4 linked regions of the Homo sapiens genome follow. The protein of the gene in region 3 purifies or fractionates together with the protein of the main gene of each other region. This does not show direct contact. Each region holds a gene or a part of one and is shown on either strand. Other genes may lie near its edges. The genes, in order: LIMS2, GCA, PARVA and DHX36.

The links.
Region 1: the proteins of PARVA (region 3) and LIMS2 purify together in Homo sapiens (affinity purification with mass spectrometry; one large-scale study listed by BioGRID and IntAct). This does not show direct contact.
Region 2: the proteins of PARVA (region 3) and GCA purify together in Homo sapiens (affinity purification with mass spectrometry; 2 studies listed by BioGRID and IntAct, with this or other methods). This does not show direct contact.
Region 4: the proteins of PARVA (region 3) and DHX36 purify together in Homo sapiens (affinity purification with mass spectrometry; one large-scale study listed by BioGRID and IntAct). This does not show direct contact.

The regions. Positions count from the first base shown.
Region 1 is NC_000002.12:127,665,283-127,669,203, forward strand, and holds part of LIMS2 (LIM and senescent cell antigen-like-containing domain protein 2), read right to left. Parts: intron 1-3,921. UniProt on the Homo sapiens protein: Adapter protein in a cytoplasmic complex linking beta-integrins to the actin cytoskeleton, bridges the complex to cell surface receptor tyrosine kinases and growth factor receptors. Plays a role in modulating cell spreading and migration.
Region 2 is NC_000002.12:162,353,856-162,357,776, reverse strand, and holds part of GCA (grancalcin), read right to left. Parts: intron 1,340-3,921; coding exon 1,296-1,339; intron 1,020-1,295; coding exon 872-1,019; intron 1-871. UniProt on the Homo sapiens protein: Calcium-binding protein that may play a role in the adhesion of neutrophils to fibronectin. May play a role in the formation of focal adhesions.
Region 3 is NC_000011.10:12,471,445-12,475,365, reverse strand, and holds part of PARVA (alpha-parvin), read right to left. Parts: intron 1,622-3,921; coding exon 1,532-1,621; intron 1,454-1,531; coding exon 1,383-1,453; intron 1-1,382. UniProt on the Homo sapiens protein: Plays a role in sarcomere organization and in smooth muscle cell contraction. Required for normal development of the embryonic cardiovascular system, and for normal septation of the heart outflow tract.
Region 4 is NC_000003.12:154,321,688-154,325,687, reverse strand, and holds the start of DHX36 (ATP-dependent DNA/RNA helicase DHX36), read left to right. Parts: upstream 1-1,200; 5' UTR 1,201-1,271; coding exon 1,272-1,514; intron 1,515-4,000.

The sequences.
Region 1 (3,921 bases), on a different chromosome or scaffold from region 3:
TCTTCTGCCTTCTGAAAGCAAGAGCTGGCAGCCGTCACTAAAGACAGCAGGGCACTGATCCTCCCAAACTAGGGTGGGAGAAAGCCTTGGAGGGGCTCACTGGCATTCAGATACCAGGCCCACACGCCACTGAGGAACACACTCACCCAGCAAGTCCCAACAGGAGGAGGTACTCATTAAGCACCCTGGCAGTCAAGTGACGACAAGCATTGGGTACAGTATAATTTGTAAATGTAGTCCAATTCCAAAGTTGCCCAACACTGATCAGTTCAACAAATAGTTTTTAAAGGTGGCCCCAGGGGCTAAAGGGCATGGAGAAGCTGAGCCCAGAGGAGCCAAAATGAATAGGGAATACCGCTGACTCTCTGATGTAGGTAGCCGAATGCTTAAGAAAACTTACACCGAAAATGTTCTTAACAGCAGCTACAAGTCAATGCCATAGGGCCTAGACCCTCTCACCACTCCCGACTCAGCCCATCCATGTGGAAATCCTCAACACTAGAATCCAGGACTCTCATGCAGACCCGCAGTTTTCTGTAAGGAGGAAACATTTATTTAGGGCTCCAAGGGTCACATATAGCACTGGAAAGGAGGCTACAGCCACAAGTGTTTTGTGCAACATAATCTGTAAATGAAGTTCAAGCACAAGTTTACCAAGTACTAATCAATTCAACAAATATTTACTATAAAAGCGGACATCGAAGGCTAGAAATTGAGAGAGGCTTAGAGTCTGATTGAGCCCAAATCCCAAATCTCTGCACAACCTTACCACCCATTCTGCAGCCTGTCCTGCTGCAGGGATGGGATTGGGAGCCACAGATACTGTAAACTGAATCTAGAACTCTATACAAAGTATTATACACCATGACCAAATGGGATTTGGTTCAGTGCTCTGGCTCTAGATATTTGCAAAAACACCGAGAGTGATGTCAGCAGAAAGTGGTGGAGTAAGGACCTCCAGAAGTTCATCCCTCCATAAAAGCAATGAAAAACCTAGCAAAAATTATCAGAATCTACTCTTTCAGAACTCTGCAAATCCACCAAAGGTTTTCAGTAACCCTAGGAACATTTGGTCAAGAAAAACAGATGAATCTTGGTAAACAAACAAACAAACACAAACCAGTGAGGTTTGTGTTGTTTTAACTTATCCTAGTCCCTTATTCCTGCTCCCTAACTCCATGGCTTCCTTGAATAATAATAGCTCGTGGTCCCAGTAAGGAGGTAGCAGAATGGAATATTATGAACAACTGTATGCCAATAAATGAAATAACCTACTGAAATGGAGAGATTCCTAGAAGGACACTACCAAAACGAACTCAAGAAGAAATAGAAAATCCAAATGTATCAGTCTAAATTTTCATACTGCTATTAAGAACTTCATGAGACTCGGTAAATTATAAAGGAAAGAGGTTTAATCGACTCACAGTTGAACAGGGCTGGGGAGGACTCAGGAAACTTATAGTCGTGGCAGAAGGCAAAGGGGAATCAAGGCACCTTCTTCACAAGGTGGCAGGAAGAAATACCAAGCAAAGGGGGATGAGCCCCTTATAAAACCAGCAGATCTTGTGAGAACTCACTATCACAAGAACAGCATGGGGGGAAACACCCCCATGATTGAATGACCTCCACCTGGTCTCTCCCTTGACACGTGGGGATTATAGGGATTACAATTCAAGATGAGATTTAGTTGGGGACACAAAGCCTACCCAAATCACTTAGTAAGGCCAGTAACATGTAAAGAGACTGAGACAGTAACCAAAAAACTTGTCACAAAGTAAAGCCAGAGCGACATGGCTTCACTGATGAATTATATCAAAGGTTTAACTAGAATTAACACCAAACCTACAAACAAACATACAAAACACCAGTGTGGTGGCACATGCCTATAATCCCAGCTACTCAGGAGGCTGAGGCAGGAGAATCACTTGAACCTGGAAGGCGGAGGTTGCAGTGAGCTGAGATCACGCCACTGCACTCCAGCCTGGGTGACAGAGTGAGATCTTGTCTCAAAAAGAGAAAAAAACAAAAAACAAAAAACAACAAACCTTCACAAAATCTTTCCAAACAAAAGAAAAGAAAGACTAGGAGGGAATACTTCACAACTCATTCTATAAATATTATCTTGATCTCAAAATAAAATGCTAAAGTCACATAGATGCAAATGTCCTCGATAAAATACAATAAATCTAACACTCTATAAAAAGTATTATACACCGTGACCAAATGGGATTTATCCCAAGAACATAGGGTTGGTTTCACATCCAAAATTCAATGTAATATACCATATCAATAGAATATAGGGAGGACACTCTATGACCATCTCAACAGATGCAGAAAACACATTTGGCAAAATCCAACATCTTTTCATAATAAAAGCACCCAACAAACTGGGAATAGAAGGGAACTTCTTCAATTTGATAAGGGGCATCTACCCAAAACCCATAGCTAACATCATACTTAGTGATGAGAAAATGAATGCTTTCCTCCTAAGGTCAGGGGGATTTCCAGTCCGCTATTTGTTTTCAACATTGCACTGCAGATTCTATCAAGGACAGTTAGACAAGAAAAAGAAATAAAAGACATCTAGTTTGAGAAGGAAGAGTAAAACTATTTTTATTTACATATTACATACTCATATATAGAAAACTCGGAAGAATCCCTCCTCAAAAAAAGAAACCCTATTTACAGATAAGAAATGAGTTCAGTAAGTCTGCAAGGTATACACTCAATATACCAGAATCGCTAGCAATGAGAAATCTGAATATGAAATAAAACAACCCCATTTGGGACAGCATCAAAATGAATAAAATACTTAGGAGTAAGTTTAACAAAATAAATGCAAGACTTCTTATTCACTGAAATTATAAAACATTATTGATATAAATTAAAGAAGACCTAAATAAAGATATCCCATGTTCATGGATTGGAAAACTTAATATTGTTAAGATGGCAATACAACACTACATCAAATTGACCTATAGATTCAATACAATCTCCATTAAAATTCCTGCCTTTTTTAAAGAAATAGACAAGGCATTCCTAAAATTTATATGAAAATGCAAGTGACACAGAATAATCAAAACAACTTTAAAAAAAAACAAAGAGGCCAGGTGCAGTGGCTCACACCTGTAATCCTAGCACTTTGGGAGGCCAAGGCAGGTGGATCACTTGAGGTCAGGAGTTCAAGACTACCCTGGCCCACATGGCAAAACCCGATCTCTACTACAAATATAAAAATTAGCCAGGTGTGGTGGCACATACCTGTAGTCCCAGCTACTCAGAAGGCTGAGGCAGGAGAATCGCTTGAACCCAGGAGGTGGAGGTTGCAGTGAGCTGAGATCAGGCCACTGCATTCCACCCTGGGTGACAGAGTGAGACTCCGTCTCAAAAAAAAAAAAAAAAAAAAAAAAAAAAAAAAAAAAAAAAAAACACCTTACTTAAAAATTACAATTTACTTACTAAAAAATTGTAAGTGTGGCAGTGGTGTAAGGATAGACATATACACCCATAGAACAGAACCAAGAGTCCAGAAATAGGCTGGGTGCAGTGGCTCACGCCTATAATCCCAGTACTTTGGAAGGCTGAGGCAGGCAGAGCCCAGGAATTCAAGACCAGCCTGGGCAACATGGCAAAATCTCATCTCTACAAAAAATACAGAAAGTAGCCAGGTGTGGTGGTGTGTACCTGTGGTTCCAGCTACTCAGGAGGCTCAGGTAGGAGGATCACCTGAGCCCAGGGAGGTTGAGACTGCAATGTACCAAGATCTTGCCACTGCACTCCAGCCTGGGTGAAAGAGTGAAACCCTGTCTCGAGAGTCCAAAAATAATCCCATATATTTGTGGTCAACTGATTTTTGACAAGAGTGCCAAGACCATTCAATGGGGCGAAGAGTAGTCTTATCAACAAATGATGCTAGGACAA
Region 2 (3,921 bases), on a different chromosome or scaffold from region 3:
CCAACATTAGGCTGAATTAAGGTCCAGGTTTAATCCATTAGGTATTAAGGATCTATAATTGAACTACATATGTTTATATGGGCTGGACTGTCCCTACTACTAAATTAAAATGTCTATTTATAAAACAAAACCAAACAAATCACTAATTTGACTTATTTAAATTGCAATTTGAGATAAGCCCACTTCCATTGGGTTCAGATTTTAACTTCCAAAAAATTAATTTTCATACAAATAGATTTTGTTTAGAAGAGTGTAAATCACAAGCATAAGAACAATTCATAAAGCTACTTAAAACTGCATTAAGTTTAAGCAAATTAAACACCATTGTATGTTATCCATTTTAAAAGTACACTAGGAACATCAGCTTATCAGAGGTATAAGAATAAAGTTATATACTTCTAAATTACTCTAAAATGCAACCTTTCCATCCTGATGTATTTTGGCACCTGCTATGTGTTCTGCACTATCTAAGAAAAAAAAGACAAAAACATGGTTTCTACCACTGAAAACCTATTTTGTACAGACTTTTGACTGACTGAGGCAAGCTTTGGCTCCCAATTAGATATCCTGCCAAGTTATAAAAGAATACAATCTAACTGGTAAGTACTAACAAAGAAATAAATTTAAACACAACAGAAGAAATTCAGAATGTATGCATGTATGGAAGATCATCTTTTGAAAAAAATCATAATTAAAATGGTTTTGTTGAGGTCTTTGGTCAGAATTTACCTACAACCTTGAAAACAAACAAAGGAACTTGCTGGCAAAAAAATACATCCCTTTATTAGTTAGTAAATTGAAGCAATTAAGTTCATCTAATCAAAGAACAAAGATTAGCTTTATAGATTCTAAAGAATGTTAATGTTCTTACCCATAAGACCAATGGCTTGACGCAACTCATGATGTTCTACTGTGCCACTTCCATCTTGATCAACAGTCATGAAGTTTTCCTTCCAGGCATTAAGAGCTGCCCATAGCTCTTTGAATGCATTAAATCCCATTTTTCCTGTGTGATCTCTCTGATAGTTTTATTAACAAAAATAAATTCTGATACCTGAGTTTATCTGACTCTAAATCATTGACTAAAACATGAGTATGCTTCTGTAGACTTAGCCAAACTCATTATATGAACAGACTTCTGCATAAAAACTAGAAAGCCTAGAATTTAAACAGGATCTTACAAAGTATTTTTAAATTCACTAGTTTACTACAGGCACTGAAATCTAACCACTGGCTTGATAGTCAGAAAGCAATTACTCTTTATTCTAGTATTTTCTATTTCTATTCAAGGATACATCCAACATGGCAATCATAATTCTGCAGGTTTCCAAACTGAAGGCTGTAAAACATATTCAATATTTAAATTAGAGTATGCCCAACTTTATCTATGTAAAATTATGACAATCTCCAGTTTCAAAATAAAACATTAAAAAACTGCCAAAATATATAAAATCACCACAATCAACAAGCTATTATTGAATGTTAAGCACCCATTGTTTAAAAAAAATTACTGCCTTCAAAGTACTCACATCTAGTGAGGGGACTAAGTTAATTAAATGAGCAATTACAAACTAACTGAAAATTACTGTGACAAAGACATTCCAGGTATGTAAAGCACTTGGCTTCACCCAAGCCTGGGGAAAAGGAAGGCTTCCAGTCTTCATAACACAAATGACAAGTGGAGTTAAAGTAGAAGTTTGACATGTACTCAGAGATCACAAAACTTGCATTAAAGTATATGGGAGAGAGTGACATATGATGACATCAGAAAGGCAAATGAGGGCCAAATCATGAAACTTTTGAATACTACCCCCAAAAAGTTTGGGCCAATGAAAAGCCACTGAAGTGTTTTCAGAAGCAGAAGGGAAATTCTAAAATTTCCATTTTAGAAACTTAGTTTACAATGAATAAAATATAAAGTGAGATGATATTGGAAATAGGTAAGTCCATTGGTAATTTATTGTAATAGACCAAGTAAGAAAAAATGAGCATCTGAATTGAAGCAACTGGTTTTTCTCGGGGGTTGGGGGGAGAAAAAAGGAAGAAAAAATCAATACAAGCTATCTTAAAACCAGGGGTGATTTGAAATATTAACACTTTCATATTTATAGAACTACAACTGATGACCTATTGATAAAATTCAATTTTTCTAATCCTTTTCTAATTTTTCTAATCCAATTACATTCAATTTGTATGCTGACATATCTCAAGACTAATTTCATGCCCTGATAAAGAAAACATCACGTTAGTACAGTTTAAATTTACAAAGTGCTTAATAGCAGCTTGTTAATATGAATGAATGAAAATTTTCAAAATTATTTTATCCATAACATCTTAACATTTTATAAAAGCAGAAAATTATTTCAGCTAAATTTTAGACCCACTAAAGAAAAAATTATAAGACATTCCAAGAGTTAAAATTGCTGATTTTCTTTAAATGTTTAATATAGTATCAATGTTAGAATTGTTGGTTGTAGTATTTTCAAATTGACAACTCAATAGATACTCAATGTGTTCTTAGCATGAGTAAGGTGGCGTGTGTTACATGATTTCACATAAACATGCTAAACGTATAATAGTTCCAATTGTAAAAAAGGAAGAAACTGGGACCCAGAAAGGCAGTTCCCCACGTTTACAAAGCTAAGGCTATACAACTGTCAGAGTGAGGGGATTACATGAGAAATTTCTGGAATGGTATTTCCTCTTTTGGGCAAGTAAATAATATCTATTTTGCTTTACAATTAACTTGGCACACATTCATAAAGTGGGAGAATCCGAATTAATGATAATAGATCGCTAAAACTGAATCAGCAAATGAGCAGATCTTCAATCTCAGAATAGGAATGTGTATGTATAAGAAGAAATATTTAGGACAAAGAGTGGAGAGACAGACTTTTCAGGAAAGTTGACAGATTTTTCACTTCCTCCCCATAGCCCATTAGAATGGAGAGTAAACTGATTTAAGGCATAAAACTTTAGAGAAAAAGAGAATTAGACAGGAAACAAAGTAACAAAATTTTGCAAGTTGAAGAGCTGATGGATGTGAGTTAACCAACCTAGATCTGAGAAAATGGATTCCTGAACTTGTAATGAGAAAAGCTGAGAAGCAACCCTTGGAGAAGACCCCAAATGCCAAAGAATTGGCAGTACTTCTGAAAGTGGGTGTGAAAGTGGAGATAAAAACAGAAGAATTGGCTGAATGTCTACCTAAGGAGCATTCTAAGCCTCATATCCCCTCCCTGCCTCGGTTCAGTTGGATGGATGCTACACCTACTTCCAACCCAGCAGAAATCTGGAATTTTATTCTCTGGAGGAGTCTCTGAAATGTAAGATACCAGAGCTGAGACAGGGCTATCTTCTAAAAGCAAGGCAATTAAAGGACAATTTACAAAAGATTTGAGAACCCTTCTGAGTCCACCTCTCCTTTCCAGGCAGAAGGTCAACTGAAAACCCAGTCCAAAAGGGAATCCCTAAAGATACTGACACCCAGAGTTCCAAGACAAAACTGCCCAGCCAAATCACCATACAGTGAAGCCCACAATCAATGCCTAACCATGATCTCAGGGCTTCTAATCAGCAATTTAGTTAAAATAAGAGCAAAGCAGTATCATCAGATAACTGAGAAAAGCACCTAACATGAAAGACAACCAAAACAAGCAAAATGAGGAGAAAAAACAATCTGGAAAAAACAAAGGTTATATAGGAAGAAAAAACTTTAAAAATATATTAATAGTCTCAGAGAGATAAGGGACAATATCACATTCATGAAAATAGAACAGAAGCTCTTGGATATTAATGAAAAGCAGAAATGAAAGACTCAATAGAAGGTTTAGGAAATAAAGTTGAGGAAAATTCCCAAAAAGTTCAGCAAAAAAAAATGATAGGAGGAAAAAGATGATAAAAGTAGAAAACCCAGTGAAA
Region 3 (3,921 bases):
CAACAGAACTAAGGATAGGGTTATAGCAGCCGTGGAGTGGTTGAGCCATGGCACTAGAGTTTAGAGCAAGCTTCCTGGAGCAAGCAGCCGTGCTGAGACTTTCAGATGAGGGGCATGAGAGGCATTCTACTCAGAGTGGACTGCATTAGCCAGGCTTTGGCGGTGGGGAGCGCTGGGAGCACGCATCGGCTGCTGGGAGCAGCAGTTCTGGCATCCTTGTGTTGCTGGGTAGTGGCTGATCTCAGGTTGAAGAGGCAGCTAGAGCAAGGAGTCTAAACACCACCTCTTAGGAGTCGACTGCAACCTGTGGTGGATGAGAAACTCTGAGAGGTCTTGCACAGGGGAACCGTGTATTCAGATTTGCATGGGGGAATGAATCACTCTGACATCCAGTGCTATTTTTTTTTTTTTTTTGAGACAGGGTCAGGCTGGAGTGCAGTGGCGTGGTCATGGCTCACTGCAACCTCTGCCTCCCAAGTTCAAGCCATCCTCCCACCTCAGCCTCCCGAGTAGCTGGGATTACAGTCATGCGCCACCACACTTGGCTACTTTTTGTATTTTTAGTAGAGATGGTCTGGGATTACAGTCATGCGCCACCACACTTGGCTACTTTTTGTATTTTTAGTAGAGATGGTGTTTCACCCTGTTGCCCAGGCTTCAAGTGATCCACCCACCAGCTAATTTTTTGTACTTTCAGTAGAGATGATGTTTCATCGCATTGCCCAGGCTGGTCTCGAACTCCTGAGCTCAAGTGATCCGCCCGCCTTGGCCTCCGCAGAGTGCTGGGATGACACTCATGAGTGCCTTTTGTCTTAAGTGCAGCTTGGTTAAGCTGAAGAGGAGGAACATAGGACAGGGAATAAGACGCAGGGGAGAAATGAACAGTTTTGAAAGGACAAGCGCACGCCAGCCACTGCGCAGGTACGTAATGCACAGTATGTCACTTCATCTCCTTTATTTCTGCTTGAGTTCCAGCTCCTTGTTTATGACCATAAACAAAGCATCTGGCTTTTCTGAAACTTGATTTTGTCATCTGGAAAATGGGGATGAGACTAATTACTGCTCCACTGCCTGCTTTTGAGGGTCCTTGAGAAAATAAGCATTTTGTGCACTCTGGAATCCTGGCCATCGTGAGCTTACCTGTACTGAACTGTCTGGTGCTGTGACCAGCACCACTCACTGGGCATTTGTCACATCCCACACTTAAACAATCGGTTACGTTTTCGATGGCCATCTGCTAGACAACTCACTGCCTGAGGCAGGGGCTGCCATGACTTTTTACCTTCTCTCAGGGGCTCGTGGGGTACCTGCACAGAGCAGGTGGCATATGGACACATGGTGGGTCAGTGAGGCACCTGAAGCCGCTCCTGATTTCTTCTTACCTTCATCAGTTCTTGAAGCTTGGGGTCACTGCGTGAGTTTGGATCCACCATTGTTCGCACCTCATTCTCCTCTTTAAAAAGAAAAGGAATTCAGTGGGGGTGCTGGCATGGGAAAGCTTAAGCGAATTCAGAGACAAGAGCACAGTTACCCAGCATCGTGTCCTCGGGGTCCAGCTCAAAGGGAATTGGGCTGAGGGGCAGGTTGATGGCGTTCATTCCCTCCTCCTGCAGCTCGGACACTGGAAGAAAAGGAAGAGCAGGGTCACATTTCAGCTGACGGACGGCAGGGGGTTGGAGCTCTGTAACAAGGGTGTTCGATATTGACATTGAGAAAAAAACCCACTAAGGGTAGATTACAGCTGTTACTCAGCCTACGATCAATTCATGGCCTCGCCTGGCTGAAAGGACCTAATTGTCCCCTTAATCTCACCTCTGCCAGCTGTCACTTCACTTGCTTTCCTCAGGGAAGCAGGGAGGTCTCAAAAGCACAGAAATCTCCCTCCTCTCAGAAAAGATTTCGGAATGAATGGAAGCGAGGTGGGCACTGACTTCTTTCTGAGTCTCTACCTCCTGCCTGTCCCATCTTCCAGGACTTCCTGTCTGGTGCCCGGCGACTGTGTGCTGACAGGATGAATGGGGTCATGGGTTTGAGGCTATATGTACGCTGTAAGGCATTTCCATCCTCCGTTCAACCGTCCTCTGACTTCTCACCTCTCCTGGCTTCCCTGAGGTACTCTCCTGATTATCTGCCTTCCCACCTCCACCCAACCCCAGCCACTGCTCAAAAATACCTCAGTTCTGGCCCTTCCCTGAGCTCTGGTCCTATCCCTTGAGATGGAACCAGCTGTGGGACCTGGGGCCAGGCACTTCATCTCTCTTGGCCCATTTCCTCAGCTGAAAATAGAGTTTGACTGGATGAACAGTAAGCTCTTTTACAGTCTTCAAATCCTAGAAATCTGTAATTCCACCTTCCTCAGAAAGAAAAACAAAAACAGGTAAAAACTACCAAAGATTACCAGCCCACGCTCCTCCAAGTGACCAGCCCCCACATGGAGCCTTAGTACAAAAGAATTCCTCCCACAAAACCAGTTGTGTGACAGACGTTTGGTGAGTGCTGACCTTGGATTACCCCTCCTAAAAGCAGTGACTTAAATCCCCTTGCTTTTTGCCAATTAAGCACAGAAAGGCCATTTTCTCAGAAGGCGTTGGTCACCAAGAGGTTCTTAAAGAGCTAATACAGCAGCTGCAATCAACCTTAATAAAAGCAGCGTCCCATCTTTCCATTTTATTTTTTTTATTGACTCTGGCCTCACCAATTGCCAGCATAGACTTGCAAGAAATCCTAAGCACAAGGCAGCCACTTACAAAGAGTTCTTTCACCTCAATACACTCACTGATAGCTGCAGTTGGACTGGAAGGAGACTGAGAAACAAAGGGAGTGAAACACTCTCTACGCCCTAAGAGACACAACTTGCATGGCGAGGCTGGTATTTAGTACCTTTGCAGCAGGTCTTTGACATTCACATAGGGTACCAGCCAGTCACCACCTTGATCTCCACATTCACAGACACCGACTATTTCATAGAATTCTCCATAAAACATGACAGAAACACAGAAGGGGTACCTTCAAAGCTTAAATCAAGCTTGTCCAACCCACAGCTCACGGGCTGCAATGTGGTCCAGGATGGCTTTGAATGCAGCCCAACACAAATTCATAAACTTTCTTAAAACATTATGACATTATCTGGAGATTTTTAATAGCTCATCAGCTATCATTAGTGTTTAGTGTATTTTATGTGTGGCCTAAGACAATCCTCCTCCTTCCAATGTGGCCCAGGGAAGCCAAAAGATTGGACATCCCTGGCTTAAATGATTCTGTAGGTACAGATTGTGTTTGTTTTCCAGCTAAGCACAACTGTTTCCTTAAAATTCTATAGTTTCTTCTAATATCTCCCCTAGAACTACCAGTTTTCTTTCTTTCTCAGGCTATTTCTCACAAAGAAGCACAATTTTCATTACTTTGTTAACAAGCATTGCTACGCAAGGAGTGAGCAGTGGAAATAAAGTCATGTTTAAATGTGGCTGCAAGGCTAGGCTTACTGGCCAATGAAGGAACTTGCTCCTGCCTGGGACTTTCTCTCCTGTAGCTACACTGATCGGCACTGTCCAATACAGTAGCTACTAGCCACTTGAGCTATTTAAATTTCAGTGAATTAAAAATTCCGCTCCGTAGCTGCACCAACCACATTTCAAGTACTCAATGGCCACAGGTGGCTGGTACCTACAACACCAGACAGCATGGATGTAGAAAGGTTCCATCACAAGATCATCAAGTATGTTCTCATGATTTAAGTGAGGACATGCCATATTTGGTTTTCTGCTCCTGTTAGTTTGCTAAGGATAATGGCCTCCAGCTCCATCCACGTCGCTGCAAATTACATGATCCTTTCTTTATTCATGGCTGCATAGTGTTCCATGGTGTATATGTACCACATTTTCTTTATCCAGTCTATAGTTGATGGGAAAATAATCCATACAA
Region 4 (4,000 bases), on a different chromosome or scaffold from region 3:
ACAGACTTAACCACATACATAATAGAGTTCACAGAAAAAGGTGATTCAGGGAGGTAGAGTTCTGACTTATCTACCATCTTATAAAGGGAAGGAAAGGGGAAAACAGCACGTATGGAAAAAACAAATGACTTTTAGTAAAAATAAATGACACCTTAAAACAGATGCCAGATATGATAGCTTTGTGACAATGTCTATTCAAGTGTGTTGCCAGCTTCTAACCTCCAGTGATAAGAGTCAGTCTTCCTGGGTTTCCCTCCCAGGGAGGAGCTTGATTTGAATTCCTCCGTGTGGTTCTGCATTTAGACAGGTAGATTTCAGAAACTCAAATGTCTTTGCTCAAAATAATTTTTAGGCCACAATGGTGTATTGTAGACCCCTTCCTGGCATACAGCATTTCCCTTTCTTAATTCACTGCACAAAGATAGCCTTTGTCTTTCCCTTAAGACTGTAGGCAAATAAAAGCTCATGCCATACTTGCTTTGTTCAGTGAGTATTCCCAGCACCTTTACATCAGTTAACTGTAACATGAGCTGGATATCTCCTGGTGTACATCCAAGCCTGTGTGGCCCAATTACTTGATTATTCAAGAACAGCTTGTACAAAACACTCAGTGTGCTGGTTAATAAACAGTATGTGGCTTCATATGAACACATGAATCTTCAAAGTAGTTTATTTACATTGCCTAAGAGCTCTGCACCGAATTTGGGTAGACACGCTCATCTTAACACTATTGGATAAACGTACTAAATAGTGACAACACTTTCAAGGAGGTAAGGGGATTTTAAATTACATATTTGAATAGTTGTCAGGCTGTTTTCAAGACTAGAAGAACTCATTTTTTAGAGACTTTTCTTTAGAAGACGGCGAATTGATCCAAGGGTTCTTTTGTTTCAATCAACGTTTACTACCCTAGGACCTAAGTGCAAAAAAACTGCGGATTTACCAGGAATAAGAAAGTAAAAACCAAAAGCTATTGGCTCACTTGCTGGGCCTAGGGAAAGAAAATCTACGAGCCTTTGGCTGGCTGTTGCTCCAGAGGTACAAAGATAAACAACTCGGGGGCTCAGACAGAACCTGATCCCTGCCACCCTCCAGACCACCGGGGTCGTCCTCCCGTGACGTCACCAGAAACCACTGCTTGTGACGCTAAATGGCCCGCCCTCTTGTGCGGTGCTACGGAAGCAAAACGGAAGTGGGCGCACAGTGGCTTCCGGGCCCGGACGCCATTTCCAGCGGTTGCTGGTTCTGACGGGTTGTAGTCTGCCAGGACAATGAGTTATGACTACCATCAGAACTGGGGCCGTGATGGGGGTCCCCGCAGCTCCGGTGGGGGCTATGGAGGGGGGCCAGCAGGGGGTCATGGAGGTAACCGAGGCTCCGGAGGAGGCGGCGGCGGCGGAGGGGGTGGTCGAGGCGGCAGGGGCCGGCATCCCGGGCACCTGAAAGGCCGCGAAATCGGCATGTGGTACGCGAAAAAACAGGGGCAGAAGAACAAGGAAGCGGAGAGGCAAGAGGTAATCTCGGATTCAGTAGTGGAGAGGATGAGGCAGCACAGGTTTTCTTCTCTCTCCCGCTGCCCCCTTTTTCTTGGTTTTGTTTCTTAAGTGATGCACGTGTTTTGTGAAATGTAAATGAGGCGCAAATATATTATGCTGGCGCTCCCCGTAGCGGGTGTACTGCGTAACATTAGCCATGCTCATCTGACCAAAAACAGGCAGGATTTATGCAGGCTGAATATATACTTTGCTTAAAGGACTTGAGAACTGTGACAAAGCAAATGTTAAGTTCACGTTCCAACCGAAATTAACTTTATTAGGAGTGTCGTTGTCGTATCTCTGGCCGTCCTTTCCCTTAGAATAATAATTGTCACTTTAAGGTCTTTGCCTGGTGAAGAAGCACATAGCGACCTTTCTACATTTGAGATAGGTTTGCGCGGAACAAAAGCAGGCAGACACTGTTTTGGATGTGGATCATTCAGAAAAATAGTCCAGCTTTTATTATTAGTGTTAAAATTATCTGCAAACCTAGGTTTTTGTTTTTTATGTTGGGGTGGAGAAATTTCTATTGATGAGCAGATTCTCTTTGAAAAGGAAAATGAAAGGAATCTCCAGAGATGATTTGGCTTACTCTCCTCTCTTCAGGTGATTGTCAGGTTGATTTGTGTCTTAAAGATCTGTAGTAAGGGAAACAAAGTTCTCCGAGTGACTAGTAAATAAAATTCTAATAAAAAATAATTTTTATCATTAAGCAGGAACTTTCTTAGTATAGGCCTTTGGTGACTTTTTAAAAGCACCTTATAAAATGTATTATAGAGTGTAATTAGATCATCATTTAGGCAACTTTTTTTTTTTTTAAGACAGGGTCTCACTCTGTCGCCCAGGCTGGAGTGCAGTGGCACGATCTTAGCTCACTGCAACCTCCGCCTCCCAAGTTCAAGCGATTCTCCTGCTTCAGCCTCCCGAGTAGCTGGGATTACAGGCGTCCGCCACCACCTCCGGCTAATTTTTGTATTTTTAGTAGAGACGGGGTTTCACCATGTTGGCCAGGTTGGTCTCGAACTCCTGACCTCAGGTGATCCACCCAACTCGGCCTCCCAAAGTGCTGGGATTACAGGCGTGAGCCACCACGCCAGGCCTAGACTACTATTTTTAAACCGTTCCATTTCTTTTTATTTCTTTTAACCATGTCATGTTCATTCAGGTGTTTTGGGGGCCTTATCCATTTATCTTCATAATTTAAACTTTTCTTTAAAAAACAAATCCATTTCTTTTACAGCCCCAAATTAACTTTTTCGTTGGGCATACTGGCTTGAAAATCAGGATACGGACGTCTAAGTAACTTTACAACTTTTATTTATTAAGGCTCTGTTTGAAACAAGGTTTTATGCATATTGCTCCAGGGACTTGAAGAAATGTGGTATTCAAAGAGCTTACAGTCTAGCTGAGAAAATAATACCTAAACAGATGAAAAGTTAAATAAGTCAGGAAAAAATGTTCATTATTGTTTCCACATGAAGGGTATAGCCAGTTGTGCAGTGGATGTTATGAATGGAACTTTTCATTTCTACTTGCGTTCCCATCCTCCTTTTAGTGGTGACACGACCATTTATTCACTTGGCAAGGCCAAATGAGATTTATCTTTGCTTCTTCCCCTTCATTTCAGCAAATCTCTGCCTTGTTAATATATCCCAATCTAACCACTTACCTCCAGAATAGTTACCATAGATCAAGCCACTGTTTGTTTTCTGTTCTTGCCTTCTAACTAGTCATCTAGCTTCCATTCTTGCTCTGCATTGTCTGTGCTTTACAGAGCCGCCTATGGTGATCTTTTAAAAGGAAAAATTAGATCATTTTATTACCTAATTCACAACTTCAGATTGGAAGTCATGTCACTTCTGTCTCAGTCTGATATATTTCAGTTGCATCTTGACATGTTCTCTGGAAATCTTGGTAATACGGCTTCAACGTAACAGGTTTACCGCTGTGCACATTTCTCTGAGCCCATGTCTCCAGTCTGATATAATTATAGTTTTTTTAGGCATACTTTATTTTTACTTTTCATTACAGTGTCATACTGTTCTCCTGTCCAAAATGTACCTTTCTTTCTTGTTTAAATAGGAGTATTTTTCAATGGGCTCGTCCCAGCTCTTCTTTGACCACCTTTAGCTTGATATCATTGTTTCCCAGTCAGAATTTCGGTAGCTTTCACTTTTAAAGTCATGTCATGTGTTTTCAAAATGAAGACTTTTTTTTTTTTTTTTTGAGTTGGAGTCTCACTCTGTTGCCCAGTCTGGAGTGCAGTGGTGTGATCTCGGCTCACTGCACCCTCTGCTTCCTGAGTAGCTGAGATTACGGGTGTGCACCACCACACTTGGCTAATTTTTGTATTTTTAGAAGAGACAGGGTTTTGCCATGTTGGCCAGGCTGGTCTTGAGCTCCTGACCTCAGGTGATCCACCAGCCCTGGCCTCCCAAAGTGCTGGGATTACAGGCGTGAGCCAT